5 separate regions of the Homo sapiens genome follow, and regions 2, 3, 4 and 5 are each linked to region 1. The links come from fine-mapping of genetic effects on gene expression. A gene starts in region 1. Each other region holds a variant in brackets. All regions are shown on one strand. Distances are from middle to middle.

What was found.
Region 2: its variant is fine-mapped to the expression of SIRPB1 in whole blood (INTERVAL, PIP above 0.99).
Region 3: its variant is fine-mapped to the expression of SIRPB1 in breast (GTEx, PIP 0.98). The same link has a PIP of 0.9 or more in cerebral cortex and nucleus accumbens.
Region 4: its variant is fine-mapped to the expression of SIRPB1 in whole blood (INTERVAL, PIP above 0.99). The same link has a PIP of 0.9 or more in lung.
Region 5: its variant is fine-mapped to the expression of SIRPB1 in whole blood (TOPMed, PIP above 0.99).

The regions. Positions count from the first base shown.
Region 1 is chr20:1,617,818-1,622,333 of GRCh38, forward strand. SIRPB1 (signal regulatory protein beta 1) reads right to left here and starts at 2,192. Exons shown (of 6, transcript NM_006065.5): 1 at 2,052-2,192. The coding sequence starts at 2,127.
Region 2 is chr20:1,569,483-1,573,998 of GRCh38, forward strand. It overlaps SIRPB1 (signal regulatory protein beta 1), which reads right to left. Exons shown (of 6, transcript NM_006065.5): 3 at 2,238-2,555; 4 at 1,323-1,655. Among named protein-coding and RNA genes, the nearest start is that of SIRPD, 14 kb to the left of the region's middle. The variant T/C (reference allele first, on the strand shown) is at 2,302.
Region 3 is chr20:1,912,780-1,917,295 of GRCh38, forward strand. It overlaps SIRPA (signal regulatory protein alpha), which reads left to right. Exons shown (of 8, transcript NM_001040023.2): 2 at 2,320-2,676. Among named protein-coding and RNA genes, the nearest start is that of SIRPA, 20 kb to the left of the region's middle. The variant C/T (reference allele first, on the strand shown) is at 2,675.
Region 4 is chr20:1,527,776-1,532,291 of GRCh38, forward strand. All of the region lies in intron 2 of LOC105372499 (a long non-coding RNA gene), which reads left to right. It also overlaps the pseudogene RNU6-917P. Among named protein-coding and RNA genes, the nearest start is that of SIRPD, 28 kb to the right of the region's middle. The variant C/T (reference allele first, on the strand shown) is at 2,348.
Region 5 is chr20:1,559,287-1,563,802 of GRCh38, forward strand. SIRPB1 (signal regulatory protein beta 1) reads right to left here. Exons shown (of 6, transcript NM_006065.5): 6 at 2,099-4,516. LOC107985409 (a long non-coding RNA gene) reads left to right here. Exons shown (of 3, transcript XR_007067493.1): 2 at 1,259-1,379; 3 at 2,166-2,251. Among named protein-coding and RNA genes, the nearest start is that of SIRPD, 3.8 kb to the left of the region's middle. The variant C/T (reference allele first, on the strand shown) is at 2,037.

The DNA of each region.
Region 1 (4,516 bases):
TAAAATATTTTGTTAAAAGTTTCATTGAAATTAGAAACTTGGAGAAACAATGATAAAAAATGAAATCTCCTGTGTGTGCATGTACACTTACTTATATGCATACATGCATATACATATGTATACACACATATGTATACACACATTTGCAAATATATATACACACACATATATGTATATATACACACACACACATATATATGTATATATAGACACACACATATACATTCACAAATATATATCAAAGTGTGACCTATTGTGATAGTATATAAGTTTGTTTTGTGTATTAAATAAAATTACAACACACGTTAAAATCTCATTAAAATATCTGGCCCATAGAAAGTAAAATATGTGGCCCATAGAAAGCATCCAACACATTAATAACAAATTTAGAAGTACATACATCACAGTTGTAACTCTGGTTGTTGCTAACAAGTGTGGTAGGCAATAATTAATTCTATGTTTACTTCCCTGCATTTTCTAATATTTCTGCTAGTAGCATAACACGACTAAAAGAATGAACTTTGGAGCCGGTCGACCTGGACTTGAATCTCAGCTGCTCCACTGACTGAGGTAGGGGACAATGAATGGACAAGTTCCTCCCTCTGCCTGAGTCTTTGTTTGGAAATAGGGGATAATAGTTGCAGCTTTCACACAGGGATGTTGTGAGGATTAGTGGAGCTAAAACAGGCAAAATGCTAATAACTGTGTCTACATGGTAGGAAGAGCTCAATTGTTAAACTCTTACTGCTGTCATTTGGGTACAGTGTATGTGTGAGAAAAATAATTTGAAAAGTGAGACCCCTGCCCTCTAGGGCCTGTGAGGTGACATCACAGCAGGGCCCAGTGGGGAATTGAGAGGCTGCTGTGCCCAGCCCTGTGGTTCTGGGGTCAGCTCCATGGCCTGAGAAGGGATCAGGACAGGTAACTTGTCTGGGAGCTGTGAGCAGGGTTCTCCCAGGCTGCACCAGGAAAGGCCCTCCAATCCTGCCTGTCTTGGGAAGGGGAAAGAAATTATCCATGGGAAATTTAAGAGAACCAAAGGAGGTTGTAGTACCTGTTATGGGCTGAATGTGTCCCACAAAATGCATGTGTTGAAGCTCTAATCCCCAGCACCTCTGAACGTTACAGTTTGGGAGACAGGGTCTTTAAGAAGTAATTTAGTTAAATGAGGTCATTGGGGTGGGCCTTAATACAACAAGACTGATATTCTCATAAGAAGAGGAGATGAGGACACAGACACACACAGAGGAAGATCATGTGTTTAAGACACAGAGAGAAAATGGCCCTGTATAAGCCAAGGAGAGAGACTTCAGTAGAAACTAACCCTGCTGACACCTTGATCTTGGACTTCAGCCTCCTTAACTGCAAGGAAGTAAATATCTGTAGTTTCAGCCACCCAGCCTGCAGTTCTTTGTTATGGAAGCCCTAGGAAAGGAATATAGGACCCAGTAAGCAGCAAATGTGGAACTTCTTAAAGAGGAAGAGGCCACAGAGAAATGGGTGGTAAGAATCAGGTCACAGGGGAGGGAGGAGCATGGGGGAACAGAGGACAAAGTGAGGAGCACCCTTAGGGAGGATGGTGGCTGAACACTCCCAGGATACACCACACCACTGCCCTACTCAAGTGAGCACTATTACAGACTTCACATCCTCAGTTTGGTGAAGAGAGAGGGCTGGGCCTAGAGCCACATAACCCTGTTAGGGTGTCTCTGAGCTTACTCTGTGGACTTGGGCATGTCACTTGGCCCTAGGGCCTCAGGACTGGTGAGGATTTAGATAATGATTCTTCTCTGCTTTTTCAATTGAAATATTATCAAAATGTAAGTAATTGTTGTTGTGGTGGTTGAATCGTCCTGTGGTTCAATGCCTCTGGTAGCCAGCTGCAGATCCACAGAGAAAGTGCTCAGCTCCCTGATTTTCTGCTCTCAGTCAAAGCCTAATCCTTGGCCTTTCTTGGCAGCACTTGTCATTGTCCGGAATCCCTGAAAGTCCAGGGACAGGCCATGGCTCAGTGGGCAGGAAAAAAGATTTTAACCGAAGGCAGTGCTCACCTGTGAGTCTCCCCAGCAGTAGCGTCATCAGCAGGAAAGGACTAGGAAGGTGGGGCCAGGAGGCTGGCACGGGCATTCTGGAGACCTTAGGAGCCTGCTCTGTCCAAACGTCTGTGCTGGGAAGATCGCAGACTCTGCTCTGAGGAGAGAAGACAAGCCCTGCCTCCCTTAGTTCAAGAGGAAGTGGCTGCGATGGAGTGAAGCAGTAACCTGCTTCTGGATTGTGAAACAGAAATCAGGAACAGCAAGCAGCTACAATGCAAGCAGTTATGCATGCCCCATTTCAGGAGAATCAGACAGGCTTAGCAGAAATAATGCTTCCTTCCCACCTGAGGTCTTAACTCCTTCCATGACTCCTAACCCCATCTTTATGTCTTCTTGGTGATTTGCCATTTGGTGCTCTTAAGCCAGGAAGGACCTGTGGTTATGAAATGTTTCCTAAACTTTCCATCTCAAGACCTCAGGATGTGGTTGGCTTGTGGTCTCATTCTACAACAGCCTCAACCAAGTGCTACTCAGTTGGGGCAGGATGAGGGATCACTGGACCTGCTCAGTGTTGGAGAGGAACAGGTCTGCTCTTGAAATGGTTCCCTATTCCGAACTTTTATAAATATAAATGGCAAAACTTAGCCCAAATTCAGTCTCATGTGGCCGTTAGCACTTTCATATGCCTGCACCCAGCAGAAGGAATTATTTCCTGACTTCTTCCAGGAGAGGAAGTGGGCTTAGGGTAATAAGGATCTGCTTTGTGAGGTGAGGTGGGGATTATGGGTTATGGAAAGGGGATATGTTTATTATGGGGGAGAATATGGAGGGCAGATTCCTGGAGCAGTCACATCGATTTCAATACTCTTTGCTCTGCACATAGAACACCTATTCCATTCATCACTGTCTTCAGATGGGAACTGAGGAGGGAGGGAGAATAAATACCCTAAGAAGATGTGCTAAGGAGTTGGGGAAGTTACTGGGCCTGCCTAGGTTCAGTTTTGCCTTCTAACCTTGGGATAATAAGTCTCACTGCCATGTTTTAGTGAACATCAAAAGAGATAATGACTATACATCCCTGAGATTCAGTAGGTTATTATTGATACTCATGGTGCCAGGTGAAGAGAGGGAACTCAAATATTGCTTTTAAATGGATTTCTACTGCATGCTGAGTTTCCCACCAGTGGCCTTCTCCCATGTTCCCCGGACTTCTGGAACCCAGCTTTTATGGTGTACTTGGTCTACCTCTGACACTCTGAGATCAATTTCTCCCTCTGGATCCTCTTCACCCTGCTTTTTGTCAATCTGTAGATGAATTCCTTTTCTTACAATCTCCAGCTGTGTGACTTTCAACAAGACACTTGACTTCTCTAAGCCTTAACTTAATTACATGTAAATGGAAGTTATAACATGCACCTTGTAGTGATATGGTAAGAGTAATATAAGCCATACAGAAGGTTTGATTCATATTTAATTATAACCAAAAAATTGTGGCTATAATTACATTTGTGTACAGGGTGAGTTCACTGCTTCCCTGACATACTTGTGCTTTAGAAAAATTTCCTTGGTAGGAGAAATGGTTTCTCCTCCATCATCTGTGACTAAGAAAGACCTGTCTGGAAACCTCTCTTTCCCATGCTGGGCTTGCAATCCTTCACCTATCATGAGTAATTGTCAAATGAAATTGTAAAAGTCATCACATTTCCATGCAAATTTCTTTTTCAATGTGGCAGATGCACAGAGGGTGAAATCATCACCTCCTGCTCCACACTCACAGAAATGAATATAAAAATGATAAAATCATGTTAATCGATGCCAAATTACACTTTAAAACAAGAAACTAGTCTCTATATGACATGAAGGGTAGTAGCTGCTGTGTTTACTGCAGATGTCCTGTGCTCCAGGTACTGTGCCAAGCATTTTGTCAGTTACCTCATTAATTCATCACTCTGGTCCCATGAAATTAGCACTACCATTAACCTTTTTTTATAGGTGAGGAAACTTGAGGCACGCAGGCAATAATACATTTGTTCAACATCACCCAGCTTTTAGAACTAGAACACAGGTTGTCACACTCCATGGCCTTCACTATGACACCTCTCATAAGAAGGGAGAGATATCTCTCAGGAAGGAAGCAGAGAAGAAGCCATAACGTCAATTAGGCGCAGCCTCCACAGCAAGGTTGGGATAGGTGCCATGTTCCATAAAGTGCTGACAGCCCATGATCACTCAGGGCATTATTCCTGTAAAGATTACAGTGAAAGCAGTAATCACTAAAGATTTGGGGAAAAGCGACATCATAATAAATTCAAAAACAATAACTAAAAAACAAAAACAGCAATGAAAATAACATCTTAGAAAATAATACCTCAGAAAATAAAAATATAAAATGTGAAAATATTTTTAACATTAACATATTTAGTAACCTTATAGAGATAATGAAAAGAAAGTAAATCCATAAAACAAAGTCACGTGTGAAA
Region 2 (4,516 bases), 48 kb before region 1:
TTTTCAGTGGACGTGACTATGCACCTTCCACACATCTCTGATGATTGGGGACATTGTTTGTCTTCTATTTCGTGTCTTTCCTCTTCTGGCAGGCAGGGACATGAACAAATCCGTGACTCAGCACTGACCCAGGAGATGACGCAAACATCATAGGGTGTTTTGGAAGGAACCTGAGTCCTTATTCTTATTTCCTGGAGCCTCAGGGCAGAAAGAATAGAAGATTGGGCCCCAGCCATCATTAGAAGAGTAGCAGAATCACAAAGGATGTTGAATGTCAGCTTTAATGGCTTCTATGCTGGGGTTGGGCCCTGATGGGGAAGTTGTGGGACCCTGAGATGTGGGAGGATGTATTCGGGTCAAAGCACTCAAAGATTGTCTTTCGACTGGAGTAGAGGGACCCCTCCTGGTATTAAAAGAGAGGGAAATAAGACATATTTTGGTTATAGAGAGGGGGAACACTGGCCAAATTTGGGTCCTTGGGACAAAGCGCAGCAGAAAGGGAAAGTTTCTCTAATTAGCACAAATTCCCATTATAGCCTGGTAGTGAGCCTGTCCTCAGGGACTAGATTTACCTTCATTACTTTGGACCAATAACCTGGTCTAATGACAAGAAGTCTTCAACAACATCCCTCATTACTTCCTAAGTCCTGGTTTCCCCTTTGGTAAAACTCCAAGCTCACTGGGTGTTTGAAGCAGGAAAGGAGATCAGAGATGAACAGAAATTTGCATATAGTAAATGTGCAGAGTGGTTGTGATTATTGTTGGTCAAATATCACCATCAGAACACAAAAGAAGCCTGTGCTGTGACCAGGTCACCTGGGGGTCTGTCCAGGCTTAAACTTCACTTGTCTTTCTGAAATTTATAGAGCAGATGCTGGAGACTGGTGGCTGAGGTCACAGATGCGGATGGAAAAGTTTAGGATAGAATAGGGACAAGGTAGAGGTTAGAAAGTGTAAAAGGCAAGGTGCTGTGCTGGCGAGAAATGCAGAAGAAGGCGAGACACAGGACTTCATAAACAAACGGATCACCTCCCTCTCTCTTTTTTCCTTTAATGTATATTTATGTCAAAATATCTATCAAGTTGTGCATCAGACTTGACGCACAGTTTCTCCTGGTAGATGGGGCTTAAGGGTGTCTACAAATGGCCAATTGTTACCTTGAACCTTCTAAGTAGTGGTGACCCATGGAGTGTAGGATTTTAATGTAGACGTTAAAATTCTACTTTATATTTATAGACTTCTAGCTTATTTTATGACAAGCATGAATATTGCTTTTAACATTAAAGAAAAAGACAAAATTTAAAAATGGGAAGTAACCGCACCATGGGTGATATCTGAGCCGTGCTCCTTCTGGTGCGCTGAGATCTCCAGGGCATAGCTTTTGCTGACTGCTTGCTGCCCATCATGCTCCACCTGACAGGTGAGCACCACATCGTCCCTGTGGGCACAGGTGTTCACCAGGAGCCAGCTCATCCAGTTGTAGGTGCCATCCTTGTTCTCTATGAGGGTCGAAGCTGTTTCTGTCCGGGACACATTTCCATTCTCCAACCAGGTCAGCTGTAGTCCCCGGGGGTAGAAATTGCTCACCTGGCAGGTGACGTTTGCCTGGTTCTCTGCCCTCATGGGCTGTTGAGTAACCTCCAAGGTGGGTGGAACTGAAACAGCACAGGGCAGAAGCTCTGATCTTGTGGCACAGACAGATCACAGGGAGGGCTAAATAACGTAGCTCCCACCAACACAGTGAGGGCATCACCAGGACAGTGCTAGGCAGGCAGCAGGTGCTCAGACATTGAGGGCACTCGTTGCATATGAGTGAAATTACTAAGCACAGTGCCTGGCGCACAGTAGGTGCCCAAGGACTGTTAGCTGCTGCTAGGCTAAGGATGAGTGAAATCTACAAGCACAACCCCTGGCATGCAGTTGGAATGTAAGAACTGTAGCAAAATCAGTGAAATCGCCGAGCACATAGTGATTTGGCTCCTAGTAGGTGCTCACTAATTGTAGTTGCTCTTGGTGAAATAAATGAAACTCTGTAGCCCAGAGCTTGGCACATGGTTGCTGGTCCCCTGACAGCTGCCATTAAAATGATAGTAAGTGACCGGCTCACCTAGGTGCATGGGAGGTGGACAACACAGTTAGGAATTAGATTCCAGGCCTTTCAAGCTCTGGAGCCTGGGGAGAGGGGAGTGGGCTTGGCAGCCAGGTGTGGGCTTGGGCTGGGTGTGAGGGTCTTCTACCTCGGATGGCCTCAGACAAGTTGGCAGTCCCACGAAGAGGGTCCCCCTGCAAGGTGATGTGGGC[T/C]ATCTCGCAGATGACTTGAGAGTGAACGTCCCCACGGGTCAGCACCACCCTGGCTGTGCTGTGGATGCTGTAGGACACACTGTCTCCTGCGGGGTCCACGTTGGTCTGGAAGTCTGAGAGCTCATTCCCATTTTTGAACCATTTCAGGGTGATGTCTCTGGGAGAGAAGCCATGGGACTCGCAGGTGAAGCTCACTGTGTGCTCAGGTGTGGCCCTCACCGCAGGGCCCGATACCACGGGGGCAGAGGGTTTGGCTACAAAAGGACCATCGATAATCAGGAGACATGACTCAGATGACCATCACTGATGATAAGCGTTTGACATGTTAAGAACCTTCTGAGACGTTAGTTTTTAATCTTTCTAATAATGTCGTGAAGGCAGTGTCCTTATTCTCATTTTACAGATCAGGACACAACAGCTCTTAGAGGTGAGAACCAGGCCATGGTCAGACAGTGAGTAGGGGCAGGGCCCAGAGGGAAGTCCAGGCCTGAGTTCAAAGTCCTCTCCACACAGGGAGACTTCCACCAATCTGGGCATAGGAACAAAATTACTGATTGGTCTCCCTCCATGTTATTAACTGGTCCTAGCTGTCCTCCCCCGGAAGGCTCACTAACCTCAGAGAGGGCATTTATAGAAGCCAATACAGGGATCAATGGCAAAGTGGCACCACCGTGAGAGCTGCAACCAGGCTGCTCAGCCCAGGACAGGGGTGGGCTGACAACCCCAGCTCCTCATCCGCAAAACAGGAGGACGGAGGACGGCGTTTCTACTTCCTGGGATGTCGCCAGGATTCAATGGGGCAATGGAAGCAGTTTTGCTCTGGATCAAACACAGAAGATGCTTCCCCCAAAAAACACAGATCTATCTTTAACCCAGACTTTACAGATACACAGAGGTCTCTCTTTAGGTATTATAAAAATATGAAACATTCCGTATTTTTCTTTTCACAAATATTTCGTTCTGTCAAATAAAAGGCATTAATTAAGGATAAAGCTTTAACGTAGAGCCAAGAGTTTGTAAGAGCATTGGAATCACACCTGCTAAAGGTCAAGCCACAGGATGTTGCAGTAGATAGACCTGGATAACAACTGAAGCCAGGGTCCGTGGGATTTTGATCTCTTTCACCTGGAGTACTTTAATGAAATAACCAATGAGAGTGGGTTTGCAGTTGAGGATTTTCAACCAGCTAATGAACTGTTTCCAAAAACAACCTTTTGTGAAAATCCCCTATAAAAAACCTGTCCTGTATTGCCATACGGGACACTATTCAGGGTTTCACTGACTCAGTGTACCCAAATTGCACCTCTTTATCTTTCAGATAAATGCTATTTCCTTTGGCCTTCCTAACAATCATTTTGCTGTTGTTGTTAGTTGTTCTAATCTGCTGGAAGTCCTAAATTTGAAAAGAGGAAATTTTTGGGAATCTGAATCTTCAGTTAGGACAGGTTTGGGTGAAAAACAAGGATCACTGAGTACTAAGAAAGCCAAAGGTGGTTAGCTTTTTCATCGTTAATTAATTACAAGAGACAAAGACCCAGGCCACACCAACAGACAGAAACCTATTCTGGGCCTTGAAAGCAAACACATTGGAGAATCAGAACAACGAGTGCAGTTTCTCCATGTAGATGAATTTTAAGGGTGTCTGCAAATTGCTAATTGTTACCTTGAACCTTCTGCCGTCCTCTTAGAAAGCACATATTATACGTTTGACTTTGCCAATATTAACTTGCTCCCTGATATGCGTGAAATAATGTGAGAGCACAGTAAGGAGGGTGTCACTTGAAGATGTCAAGTCTTTGAGACACCAGCAGCATGGGTGTCCCTAGAAGGCTGAGAGGCTGTCTTCAGTTCCGATTTTTTGAGGGCTTCTTGGCAGCCTGATGCTGGCTGCTCTCTCTGTACCTCTCAGCACTTCAATCCTCCTTCTATTTGTCAGAGGGGGTCCTCATGTGAGCCCTTGTGTAGGGCGAGACTCTGAGAGGATCCTTGGTGGCCAAGGGCCAAAAGTAGATAGAAACCCCACCCTGGGAAGATGAGTGAGGGTAAGTGCAAGGGCATAGCCTGGCATGTAGTAGGTGCTTAATAAATAACCCCTGTGACTGTAATCATGAGGTTTGGTCATTACTGCTTCTGGAGCTGCATAGCTATTCTTTAGGCAACAGAACAAAGAGGCACACAAACACCAAGGAAAGGCTCAAACCCTACTCACCGCAGC
Region 3 (4,516 bases), 290 kb after region 1:
CCATGCTGTCACCCAGGCCTGCTGGCCCTAGCAACTGTGCTTCCCCGAGGCAGCCTTTCCAGTTGGTCCAGTCTCGAGGCTGAAATACAGACCTATCCGGAAAGTTCCTAGCTCAGTGCTGCTGGTGCTGCCTCTGATGTCCCCGCCTGGATGGGCCTCCCGGGCCTCCCACACATTTGGCCACCAGCCTCACCCCTCTCAGGCCGTCTGATGCTGGCTGGGCCTCTGTCCACTGTGGGTTCTGTCTGTCCACTGTGGGTTCTGTTTTTTTCTCCTGTGCCATGAAGATCTTGCCATGTTCAACTTCAAATGGAAATGAAATGAGAAGCTGGACTTCCTGATAATAAAAGCAGTTGAGGTCTTAAGTGGTTGATCAGGAAAAGGAAGTCGAAATGGTAATATTTACACCCAAAGCAGGTGGAGTGGTCTTAGGCACTCTGAGACTCCACTCACCTGCCATGAGAACCGGGCCCCAAGGGTGATCCCTTGCCAGAGTCAAGACTGGGTGAGGCTGGGAATGGGAGAAAGAGGCAGGACAATGGGCAGATAGCCCTGGGCTTCCTGCAGTGAGGGCAGATAGGGGTCTGTGAGCCTCTTTCCCTGGCTGCCCTGCCCCTGCCAGTGGGGTGGTGCCAGGCCATGGGTTGGTGGGCAAATTCACAGGGTCTCTCTCCTCCCCAGCCAGAGCCAGAGGGGCACAGCAGCTCTGGACATCTGCCGCAGCCTTGTCTGATGTACAAGGCAAAGGTGGCCCAGGTCAGGGCAGGACAAGGTCACATGAAGGGTCAGTGGAGAGCCCAACTGGGGCCCCAGGTCACCTGTCACCTGCATACCAGGTAGCTGCCACTCCTCTGTCTACCTGGTTCTCTCCTTCTCCCCTATTCTAGCTCGCTCTCTCACTCTGCGTCTGTCTCTCAGGCATGTGTTTCTCTGAGGTCTTTATGATCATGATCTTTCTTTTTTTTGTTTCTTGTACCTCACCTTGTTCAGAATCGAGGCCCTGGCTCTGCCTTGCTCTGAACTGTTCTCACTTGGTCCCTATCCATCTTCAACGCATCTCATGACAAGCTCGTCCTGCCCTCTTCCTGTCTGGGCTCCCCCCGTGCACCCCAATCTCTCCACCCAGGGTCCCTGTCTTGTGTGCCCCAGTGTCTCTGATTGGGGCTCAGGCTCCTGCAGCCAACCTCTACAATTCCTTCCAGCTGCCCATTTGGGAGCCCTTGAGGCCTGGACTGGGTCCAGCTCCAGTGTGTCCCCATCACAGTGAGGCCTGGATCACAGGGCATCAGCAGGTGTTGGTGAGAGTGAAGTTTGAGCCACAGCCACCTCCTTGTTTATTCAATGTATAGTAACAACAACTTCCTCAGGGCCCATCTCAGGGCTAAGTGACTTCTATGTGTGATCTCGTTTTCTTTTCAGAACAAAGCAGAGGCCTGGGGGCTGTTCTACCCATCCTGTAGATAAGAAAACTGAGACTCAAAACTGATGGATAAATTAAGGTCCCACAAGAACAAGGGGCGAGCCAGGTTTCAAACCAGGTCCGATGACTCTAAAGACCAGATGCTGCATTTGGACGCTGTCCCCAGCCTTGGCTTATTTTATCCTCCCAGAGATCCATCGAGGTGGGGTCATAGTAACTATTTTACAGATGAAGAAACCAAGGCTGAGAGCAGTAAGGGCAAACTAAGGGCAGCTCTTGCATTTGTGTGACACTTTGCTAGCCAGGCTCAGTCCTGGGTTCCAGGTGGGGACTCAAACACACTGGCACGAGTCTACATTGGATATTCTTGGTTACCTGAGTGGTGGCCCAAGGACACAGCTATAGGCCACTGATCCAGAACTCAAACTACATTCTCCTACTGCCCAAACCGCTGAGTACAGCCTCCCTTCTCGGGGCCTGCATCCTGGGCCAGGCCAGAAACAGAATCTTAACACCTTGTACAGCCCCAGATATGCCAGGCCCCTACCTCTGAGTCTTTGCCCAGGCTGTTCCCTCTGTCTGGAATACCAGGCTCCCTTCTGGCTCATTCAGATTAGAATTAGCCCAGCTCAGATGTGACTCTTCCAGAGAGGGTCCAGGCATTCAAACCCACTCTCTGCCATGTCATTTAGCTTTCTGTGCCTCAGTGTCCCCACTTAGAATACAGGCTCATGTTGCAGGTTTGTTGTGAGGGTCAAATGAGATGATACATGCACTATACTGATCTCACAGCCTGCTTCTGGTGTGCATCCAGTCAATGAACGTCATTGATAAACACTTGAGGAAACACAGAGGATCACGTAAGGATGAAAAAATGACTGCTTTGTGCTCCTTTCCAGGAGTGGCGGGTGAGGAGGAGCTGCAGGTGATTCAGCCTGACAAGTCCGTGTTGGTTGCAGCTGGAGAGACAGCCACTCTGCGCTGCACTGCGACCTCTCTGATCCCTGTGGGGCCCATCCAGTGGTTCAGAGGAGCTGGACCAGGCCGGGAATTAATCTACAATCAAAAAGAAGGCCACTTCCCCCGGGTAACAACTGTTTCAGACCTCACAAAGAGAAACAACATGGACTTTTCCATCCGCATCGGTAACATCACCCCAGCAGATGCCGGCACCTACTACTGTGTGAAGTTCCGGAAAGGGAGCCCCGATGACGTGGAGTTTAAGTCTGGAGCAGGCACTGAGCTGTCTGTGCG[C/T]GGTGAGTACAGCGTGGGCCTCCTTTGCCTCTGGTTTGTGACAGTAACTCAATAATAACACCCTCCATTCTTTGAGCAATGATCAGGTGTGGTGGTAGGTGCTCCTTTCCATGAATTGATGTCTCCCCCTTTTACAAATAAGGGAAGTTGAGGCCTGAAGACGTCATGCTATTTGCTGAAGGCTCCACAGCTGGTAAAGGGTGGGAACATCTGCATCCTTCATCTGCCTGGCTGTGTAGCCCTGGCCTCTTCAAAGCTGACCCAGCCCTTTCATTCCACAGATGAGGAAACTGACAGATAGTGTGACTTGCCCAGGCACAGGACCAGACCTCACCTGCTGCCTCCAGAGAGCACTTCCCTCTCAGGGCAGCCGAGTCTCCTCTATGTGACAGGCACTCACTGAGAACCTACTGTGTGCCAGGCTCCGCCAAGCTTGTGTTCTCATCCCTTCCAATAAGAGATCCACCCAGGGCAGGGAGCAGAGAGGGTGTGTTTCCTTTATTTCATCACCAAACACCAACTGAGAAGATTCCTAAAAGGCACAGATTTACTGTTTAATCTGATGGCCCTGGTGAGAGGAGAAGCCAGAGGGTTGGGCATTTTCTGTGGGTCTTTTAGAAAAACACTTGTGTGATTTAGGGACTGATTCATGCGTCACTAAAGGCTCTGAACAAAGCTGGGTCATCATAGAATGTCTCTCACCCCAGGGAGGAGGTCTCCCTTCTAGGTGACTTTGGGTTCCTCCGTTAAGGCAGCAAAGATGCTCATTTTGTATTTACTGCCAGAGCCCCAGGATCCTTGTTCTAACTCCGAATCCTGGGACATTAGTACAGGAAGGACCCTCAGACCATCCAGCCCAACCCCTAGTTACAGGTGGAAACTTGAAGTCAGGAGATGACAGGGGCCTTGTCCACAGTCATAGGCCCAGTTAGTGACAGGATCTGGACCAGAGCCCACATCTGATTCCAGGGAGGCTCCTTCATTAGCCATTGTTTACATAGAAGAGCCTGGTGCATCATAGGTGCCGACTGAAAGCTCCTTGAACAGAACTGCTAAGCAGGAAGCCAGCACTTCTCCTTTCCATCAGTTTCCTAAAGGTTCAGAATATTCACATTCAGACCGTTAGGCCCACTGGTGATTGGAAAACCGCTCCCAAATGTAAGCCATATCATTTGATACTGAGATTTCATATCAGGATAGAGACCTGCTCCATTGTGTAATAGCTACAGAATACTCCAGCTTATGGAAATACCAGATTTATTTTACCATCTTCCATTGATGGATACGTAACTTGTCCCCAAACTTGAACTATTAAAACAGTCCTGCAGTGGATGACCTTATACATGTGTGACCTTACTCAGGTGGGAGACGCCCACTGCAAGTGCCATTGCTAGATCAGAGGGGGTGTGTGTTTTAATGTGTGTGGATATGGCCTAATTTCCCTCCTAGACATTATAACAATCAAGTCTCCCCACAACCGCTGGACATAGGCAGGGAGGGTGGCTTTATCCTGATTGTGCAGATGTTACAGGAAAAGACGTTGAAGTTCCCAGATGATGCATCTCGTGCCTAGACAATCACAGCAAATACGTGGCTCAGGTGTGACCCAGATCTGCTGACTCCTAGCAGAGTGCTCACTCCTCTTTGCCATGCTGTCAGCCTAAATGATGCCCTGGATGAGAAAGGAGGGAGGTGGGAGGGGGCCAGGGAGCAGCAGCTGGATTGGATCCTCATCCTGGCACTTTCTCCTTTTATAACAAGTACTTATGAAGGAAGAGCCATTTCTTGCCCCCTTTACAGATAAGGACTCTGAGGCTCAGAGAGGAGACCTGTGTGGTGAGC
Region 4 (4,516 bases), 90 kb before region 1:
TGTTTTGGGATGGAGCATTCTATAAGTATCAGTTAGCTCAAGTTGGCTTATAGTGCTGTTCAAGTCTTCTACATCTTTACTGATTTTCTGCCTCCTTTTTTTACCAATTATTGAAAGAGAGGTTTTGAGATCTGACTATAATTGTAGATTTTTCTATATATTCTTGCAATTCCATGAGTTTTGTTTTATGTATTTTGAAACTCTATTATTATATGCATCAACATTTAGAATTGGTATATTTTATTAATTGATAAGCTTATTATAAATGATATTCTATGTTCTCATAATTTCTTTGTTCTAAATACACTTTGATATTAATGTAGGCATTCCATATTTAAAAAATTATTGTTGATGTTGCATATATTTTTCTGTCCTTTTATTTTTAATCTATTTGTGCCTTTATTTTTGAAGAGAATCAATTCTCTGCAGGCAGCAAATAGTGGATCCTACTTTAAAAAATATAATGCAAAAATCACTTTATTTTAATTGGTGTGTTTAAACCATTTACATTTAATATGATTATTTATATGACTAGGTCTAAATCTATGATCTTGCTACTTACTAGCCTCATCTCTTTTCCAGTGTACCTCATTTTCTGTCTTCTTTTGGATTGATTTTTATGATTCTGATTTATGTCTTTTGTCAGTTTATTAGCTATTACTCTTTGTTGTGTTATTTTACTGGTTGTTTTGGGATTTCTGGCATACATTATTAACTCATCATTATTTACCATGAGTGATAAGGTATCACTTCACACATAGCATAAAATTCTTACAGTAATATATTTCTGTGTCTCTCTTCCTGGTCTTTGTGCTATTTTTCTCACACATTTTACTTCCATGTATGTTATAATTTGTCAAATATATTATTATTGTATTTGCTTTGAACAGCTATGTTTTAAGTACATTTAAATATACTTTTAAAATATTTTCCCACATTGTTACTATTTCTCTTGCTTTTAATTTCTTTGTATATATCCAGGTTTCCATCTGGTATCATTTCACTACTGTTGGAAGGACTTCTTTTTAACATTTCTTGTAGTGCAGATCTGTTGATGATGAATTCTTTCAGCTTTTGTATGATTGATAAAATCTTTATTCTTCACTTCAAAAATTGTGGTAAAGTACACATAAGATCTGCCATCTTAACCATTTTTTAGTGTACAGTTCAGTGGCATTGAGTACACATTTAGAGTACAGTTTCAGTGGCATGAGTCACATTGTTGTGCAACCATCACCACTATACATCTCTAGAATGCTTTCCATCTAGCAAAACTGGGAAAATATATGGAATGCATCACAAATTTGCATTCCATCCGTGTACACAGGCCATACTAATCTCTGTATCATTTCACTCTTAGTATCTGTGCTGCCAAAGTGAGTACTTAACTCCAGCCTGGATGGCAGAGCAAGACTGGCTCAAAAAATAGATAAATAAATTAAATGCTTAATTTTATGTATTTATTTTAAAAGATATTTTTGCTAGGTAAAAATTCTAGAATGACTAATTAATTATTGTTTTCTTTTTAAAAATGCTTTAAATAGCCAGGCATCGTGGGGCATGCCTGTAATCCCAGCATTTTGGGAGGCCGAGGAGGGTGGATCACCTGAGGTCAGGAGTTCGAGACCAGCTTGGTCAATATGGTGAAACCTTGTCTCTACTAAAAGTACGAAAATTAGCCAGGCATGATGGCAGGTGCCTGTAATCCCAGCTACTCGGGAGGGTGAGGCAGGAGAATTGCTTGAATCTGGGAGGCGGAGGTTGCAGTGAGTCGAGATCGCGCCGCTGCACTCCAGTCTGGGTGATGAGGGTGAAACTCTGTCTCAAAAAAAAAAGAAAAAAAGCTTTAAAGATGTATCCCCACTGTCTTAAGCTTGCATTATTTTTGATGAAAAGTCTCCTGTATTTTTTGTTCTTTTGTATTTAATATTTCTTTTTGGGGGGCTGCTTTTAAGATATTTTCTTTATTGGTTTGTGCAACTTGGTTTGTGCTTGGGGTTCATCGAGTTTTTGGATCTGTGGGTCTACAGTTTTCATCATATTTGGAACATATGTGACCATTATTTCTTCAAATATTCTTTCTGTCCCCTCTTCCACTGGTGTCTCCAATACATATCTATTAGGCCACTTGAAATTTCCCCATAGCTGCTGATTGATGCTCTGTTTATCTTTTTTTTTTGAGATGGAGTCTCGCTCTGTCGCCCAGGCTGGAGTGCAGTGGTGCCATCTCGGCTCACTGCAAGCTCCACCTCCTGGGTTCACGCCATTCTCCTGCCTCAGCCTCCCAAGTAGCTGGGACTACAGGCGCCCGCCACCACGCCCGACTAATGTTTTGTTTTTTTTTTAG[C/T]AGAGATGGGATTTCACCGTGTTAGCCAGGATGGTCTCGATCTCCTGACCTCGTGATCCACCCGCCTTGGCCTCCCAATGTGCTGGGATTACAGGCGTGAGCCACTGCATCTGGCTGCTCTGTTTATCTTTTATACAGTTTTTAATTTTTTTGGTCTTATATTTGGATGTGGCTTTATATATTCCATTTTTATCTCTCTGTGTCATTTTGAATAGTTTCTGTTGTTGTGTCTTTAAGTTCATTAATCTATTTTCTTCAACATCTTAACTGCTATTAATCCTACTCAGTCTATTTTTCATCTTAGATATTGCAGCTTTCATCTCTAAAAGTTCAATATGGATCTTTTAAATATTTTCCGTGCATCTACTTCACATATTCAGTTTTTCTTCTAGCTTCCTGAACATACAGAGTATACTTATAATAACTTTAATTTCTTTGTGTACTAATTTTATCACCTGTCTTTTCTGGTTAGTTTCAAATGATTAATTTTTCTTATTATGAATCACATTTTCCTGCCATTTTCATGCCTGGTAATTTTTTATTGGATAACAGATATTGTGACTTTTACTTCAATGGGTAGTGGGTATTTTGCCTTTCTATAAATATGCTTGAGCTTGTTTTGGGACATGGTTAAATTACCTGGAAGCGGTTTGAACTTTTCATGTTTTGGACTTAAGCTTTGCAAGGCATGCCTCCAGCATCATTTGGTCTAGGGCTAATTCTTTTTCCTTTACTGAGGCAGAACTCTTCTGTGTATTCTACCAGATGTCCCATGAATTATAAGTTTTTTTCACTCAGGTTGTAAAGATCAGGCACTATTCTTAGCCTTGCGTAAGCTCCAGAAATTTTTCTCCTCTGGCCTCATGTACTTTTCTCATGTACATAATACACTTTTCAATACTTCACTGAATATTCAATGGGGACCTTTTACAGATATTTGGAGTTCTCTTTCTGTGAAACGACCTGCTCTTTGGTGCCCTACCCTGAAAACTCTAGTCACTTGGCCTCTGTGGACATCCAGGTCCTTCTTAACAACTCAGGGAGAACTTCGGGCTCCACCTGAGTTATCTCGTTCTGCATGGTGGTCTTAAAGCCTTCTCAGAGAGTACTCTTAGGGCAGCCTTAGGGCTCGCTTCATTTATGTCCCATTTCACAGGGATCACTGTCCTTTGTTGCCTGGTATCCAATGTCTTGTCTACCATGTTTTAAATAATTTGCCCAGATTTTTAGCAAGAGAGTAAATCCAGTCCCCATCACTATTTTGGTAGAAGTTGCCCCAATTATTTAATTTAATTTAATTTTGCTATTGTACTATGTGTTTGTCTTTTTTCACTGTATGTTCTAACTGGTTTTTCTTTGTATATGTGAAGGTTGTTGATTTCTGTTTGTTGATTTTATAACTTACTATGTTACTTAAATTATCTTGTTTTTTATAGCAGTTTAATGTTGATTCTATTAAGTTTTCCAGATACCATATCATCTACAAAGAGAGATAGTTTTCCCACTTCCTTTGCAATTAATATGCTTTTTATTGTTCTCTCCTTCTAAAAGCATTGACAAATACTTCAACGTAATGTTAAATACTATTAGAAATGGTGGGCATGAGTTTGAAGACTGCTTAAGTATTCTACTGATTCTATCTTTTGGAGATGTCCCTAGTAATGCTGCAAGTCCTCCTGTTCTGGAATGGCCCAGTGGCCATTTCTATGCCTCCTGCACAACTGTTATCTTAGGGTTTCCAATCCCCTATTCCTAGTTCTCATTCTTACCTTTTTTTTTTTGTATGACTCCTATTTTAGTTAAGCATAAGAGGGTGTAAAAAGCAATTCTTGATAATCTTGCAAACTCCATAGATTGTCTGGGTAAATGATTTTAGCTTTGAAATAATTTTCCCTAAGAATTGTGAAGGCACTATTCCTTGTATTCCTGGGTCTAATATTGTCCTTAGGCATCTCATGCTGGTGTCACTCACAGTGCTTTGTGCATAACTTTTTAGTTTCAATTCTTTAAAATTGTATGACATTCTCTTTGTCCCCAAAGACTGCCTACCATTCTCCTTGTTTCTCCATGGCTGTAAGCTAAAATGTGAAAGTCCCCTAAATTATCTTGATGTATGTTTCTATGGTTCTGTTACAGTAAATTATCACACTCATTTTTTTAAAAAAGAAT
Region 5 (4,516 bases), 59 kb before region 1:
CTACAGGCGCCCACCACCACGCCTGGCTAATTTTTGTATTTTTAATAGAGACAGGGTTTCACCATATTGGTTAGGCTGGTCTCGAACTTCTGACCTCAGATGATCCACCTGCCTCAGCCTCCCAAAGTGCTGGGATTTCAGGTGTGAGCCACTGAGCCTGGCCTCTTTGTATACCTTAAATATTCAAGTTTGAGTTTCAGATCTGCACTCACAAACCTTATCTTCTCCCACACCATGCCTGTTTTGTATATGGTACCATCATCTAAGCAGTTTGTCAAACCAGGAAGGGACTCATGTTCTATACCCTCACTTATCCACTTGTTACCAAGTGAAAGGGGGTTGCTGCCTGATGTGCTAGAAGCCAATACTGTGACACCAGGCTTTTGAGAAAAGAAAAGCTTTTTATTGCAAGTTGACTAACAGGAAGACAGAAGTCTACCTCAAATCTAGCTCCATGTGCTGGCTTCAAGGCAGTAGTTTTATTAGCAAAAGTTTAGGGGTTGGATTCTGGGATTAGTATGTGATTTGTGAAAGGAAAGGGGAGGTCTGGAAAGTCCTTGGGCATGTACAGTTATCTCTCTATGCCTCTTCACGGCTCCCATGTGCAAAACCCTGGGGCGTCATCATGAAATACGTGGTAGAAACTCAGGCTGTGACATCAGCAAGCTCATTCTGAGCAAACTCCAGTTGGCCATATTGGTTCCAACAGATTTTAGTCAGTTTTGTTATCCTACAAGTGGAGGAAGTTTCGGCAGTTTAGCAATTTTTTTTTTTTCTTATCTGCTATCCTGTAAACTCAAGAATTTCTTAGTGACTGGTTTCTTTAACTCTTTGGGGGCATAGTTTCACACTCCTATCTTGCCCCTACCAGGCCCTATTGGATTTACCTCCTAAATCCCTTCTGAATTAATCTCTTTCTCCATCTCTATCATCATCTCTTGCCTGAATAAGAACAATTGCCTTCTCACTAGGGTACCCCCATTTTTATTTGCCCCCTATAATCTCTTTCTCCTTCTTCAGCCAGACTGGTCTTTTTACAACATAGATTTAATTATGTCCCTCTCTTGAATAAACATTTTTGTGGATTCTCATTAATCTGGAGGTACTATAAACAAGGCTTTCTTCTGTGACTGACTTGCTCCCTTAGAGATGAAGGGATCCCCACCTTTCTGATACGTAGCATAGCTTCACTGTCCCAGGTTGGGTTCCCTGGGAGACAGACTCTGGGGTGAAGATGAACAAGCAGGTTATCTTTCAGGGAGTACTTTTAGGATCAACACTTGTGGACGGGAGAAGATGGAAGCAGGACTGGGTAGAAGAAGAAGCTGGGCTGCAATGAAGTCCCATTGAAGACCTCAGCTGACCTTGCATGGAGCCTGGTACTAGGATATTCCTCCAGAGTTGCTCTGAGTTAGGATAAGAGAGCTGGGCCTTTATACGACTAGGTTGATGAGTCCAATGAGATGTGGTTTGTTACCAGATACGACCTAAGCAAGGGCACTCCCTTCAGCTGAGACAATCGCAAATAGAGCTGATGCTGAGGACCATCTCCACAGCCAGGTGCCTCTCAGCATCCATTACACAATTCATGGGAACAACTTGTTCCTGTGAAGACTTGGGCTCAGGACATTATTCACTCACTCATAGTCAGGTCCTCAAAGCTATCCCAGCTCACCCACATAACCCAAAGTTTTCTGATCCCACTTGGTCTGACCTGGATTTTACTAATGGGAAAAGTTTAGGGTGAGCATCACGGGGGATTGAGAAGCCACTTCCTCTGGGATCTGAGTGCCTAGATCTGGGGTGAGCTCTGGTAGTGGACAGAGGAAGGACGAGAGGAAAGGAAACCTCAGGCTTTTGAAGTGAGATAAAACTTTGGAATATCAACAAAGTCTCCCTACCGCACATTTCCTTGCATTGTTCCCCACGGGGTACAAGAGGCAAATAAAACCTAGCTGAGGACAAGACGTTAATTTTTTCTAATAGACTTAATTTTTTAAGGACAGCTTTAGATTTACAGAAAAATTGAGCCCTAT[C/T]ATTAGCATCTTACATTGATATGATACATTATTATAATCAATGAACCAATATTGATACATTATGATTAATCAAAGTTCATAGTTTATTTAGATCTTTTCTTTTTACCTAATGTCGTTTTTCTCTTCCAGCATCCCATCCAGGATACCTGTTACATTTACTTGTCATATCTCCTCAAGCTTCTCTTGGCTATGACAGTTTTTTAGACTTTCCTTGATTTTGATGACCTTGACAGTTTTGAGGAGTTCTGGGCCCGATGTTGCAGAATGCCTCCTTATTGAAATTTGTCTGATGTTTTCCTCATGATTAGATTGGGGTTGTGAGTTTTGGGGGGAAGGTAATAGAGGAAAAGTGTCATCTTCATCACATCATATTAAAGGTACATATTAGTGACATGATTTATGATTCTTGATGTTGATTTATAACTGTTGATGAACTCTTGATCACCTGGCTGAAGCTGTATTTGTCAGATTTTTCCACTGTAAAGTTATTTTTTCTCCTTTTTTCCATGCTGTACTCTTTGCAAAGAAGTCGCAGTGCACAGCCCACACTTCAGGAGTGGAAGTTATGTTCCACCTCCTTTAGAGTGGAGTGTATAAATAAATTATCTGGGACTCTTCTGCACTGGAGATTCTTCTCTTCTTTCCCATTAATTTATTCAATCATTTATTTATATCAGTATGGACTCAGATATTTATTTTATACTTTGGACTATAACTCATTACTACTTTACTTATTTTTTTGCTGAAAGTGTTCCAGCTTTGGCCTTTGGGAGCTCTTTCAGTTGGTTCCTGCGCCTCTTTGATGTACTCCAGTCACTGTGGGTTTTGGTTTTGGGGTTGACTTTTTTTTCTTGTTAGCACTTTCTTACTTTCTAGAGGATGTTGAATTTTTGATGGAATGTTTTAAACAGAAAGAAGAGAGAGTAGTCTTTAAAGAAAGAGCTTGAGAATACAGCACACAAGCCAAGTGATCAAATGAAGAGAAGTTTTCTTTTGAAATCCAACACCTAGTAGAAACCAATGACCTCAATGATGTATTCACTCATTTAAAAAAATTGACAGCCTATTATATGGCAGACACAGTTCTGGCAACTGAGGATACAGATAATCCTCCCCCACCCCCAACCCCCCACGATATAACTGACATTCCATTTGCGTAACATAGATAAATACAGGCAGTTCTCACTTTGGTGATGACATGCATGCATTTCTCTTACCATAGTTTAGTTAAGTAACATCAGTCCCACAACACAAGTCTCAAAATTTAGGTGCCATAGTAAATTTAATGTAATTTGCATAGAGTACAAACTTCTGGGCTAGCTCTTCAGTCCACAAATCACCATGGTAATAAAAGCTCGTCATGATCAGTAACCAGTCATGTTGTGTCTTTCAAAGTCTGTTGGTGATTGGTCCCTATGGCTCTCCTACTCAAACAGCAAATCCTATAGTTGGGTTGCCTCCTTGCCTCCCAGTGATGAGCCCATATGACATTTTACAGAAATGAATAATTGAAAGAGGAATTTTGCAACCAAGATGAAAGTGCAGTGAAGAAATGAGAAGTGAAAATGCTGCAAGTGAGGTTCAAATTGAATGTGAGTGGAATTCTAGAAGTACAAATAGTTGACTGTGGCAATGTAGACCCTGATGCAGGAACTTCAGATAGGCAGCCAGAGGGAGGTAGTAAACGCAAACTGCCACAAATGGGAGAGGAGTGGTAATAAAAGGGCTGAAGATGTCCCAAAGGTTGAAATGCCAGCAAAAAACTTCACATGAAAGGATCTTCTGGAGTGATTCCACAATATTGAAAATTCAAGGGATAAGATGTTGGAAGCTAGTCCAAACTTAGAAAGATGGCAAAACACCAAGGTATAATAGAAATGATGCTTGCTGGCTAGGCATGGTGGCTCATGCCTGTAATCCCAGCACTTTGGGAGGCCAAGACAGGTGGATCACCTGAGGTCGGGAGTTCAAGACTAGTCTGATCAACATGGAGAAACCCCATCTCTACTAAAAATACAAAATTAGCTGGGTGTGGTGGTACATGCCTGTAATCCCAGCTACTCAGGAGGCTGAGGCAGGAGAATCACTTGAACCCTGGAGGCGGGGGTTGCAGTGAGCCAAGATCACGACATTGCACTCCAGCCTGGGCAATAAGGGTGAAACTCCATCTCAAAAAAATAAAAATAAAATAAACAAATGAAAAGAAACAATGCTTGCTCCGTGTATTAGCCCATTCTCACACTGCTATAAAGAACTACCAGAAACTGGATATTTTATGAATAAAAGAGGTTTAATTGGACTCACAGTTCCACAGGCTTAACAGGAAGCATGACTGGGAGGCCTCAGGAAACTTACAACCATGGTGGAAGGAGAAAAGGAAGCAGGCACCTTCTTCACATGGTGGCAGGAGGGAGAGAGAGAGAGAGAGCGAAGGGGGACTTGCCACACACTTTCAAAAAACCAGATCTCATGAGAACTCA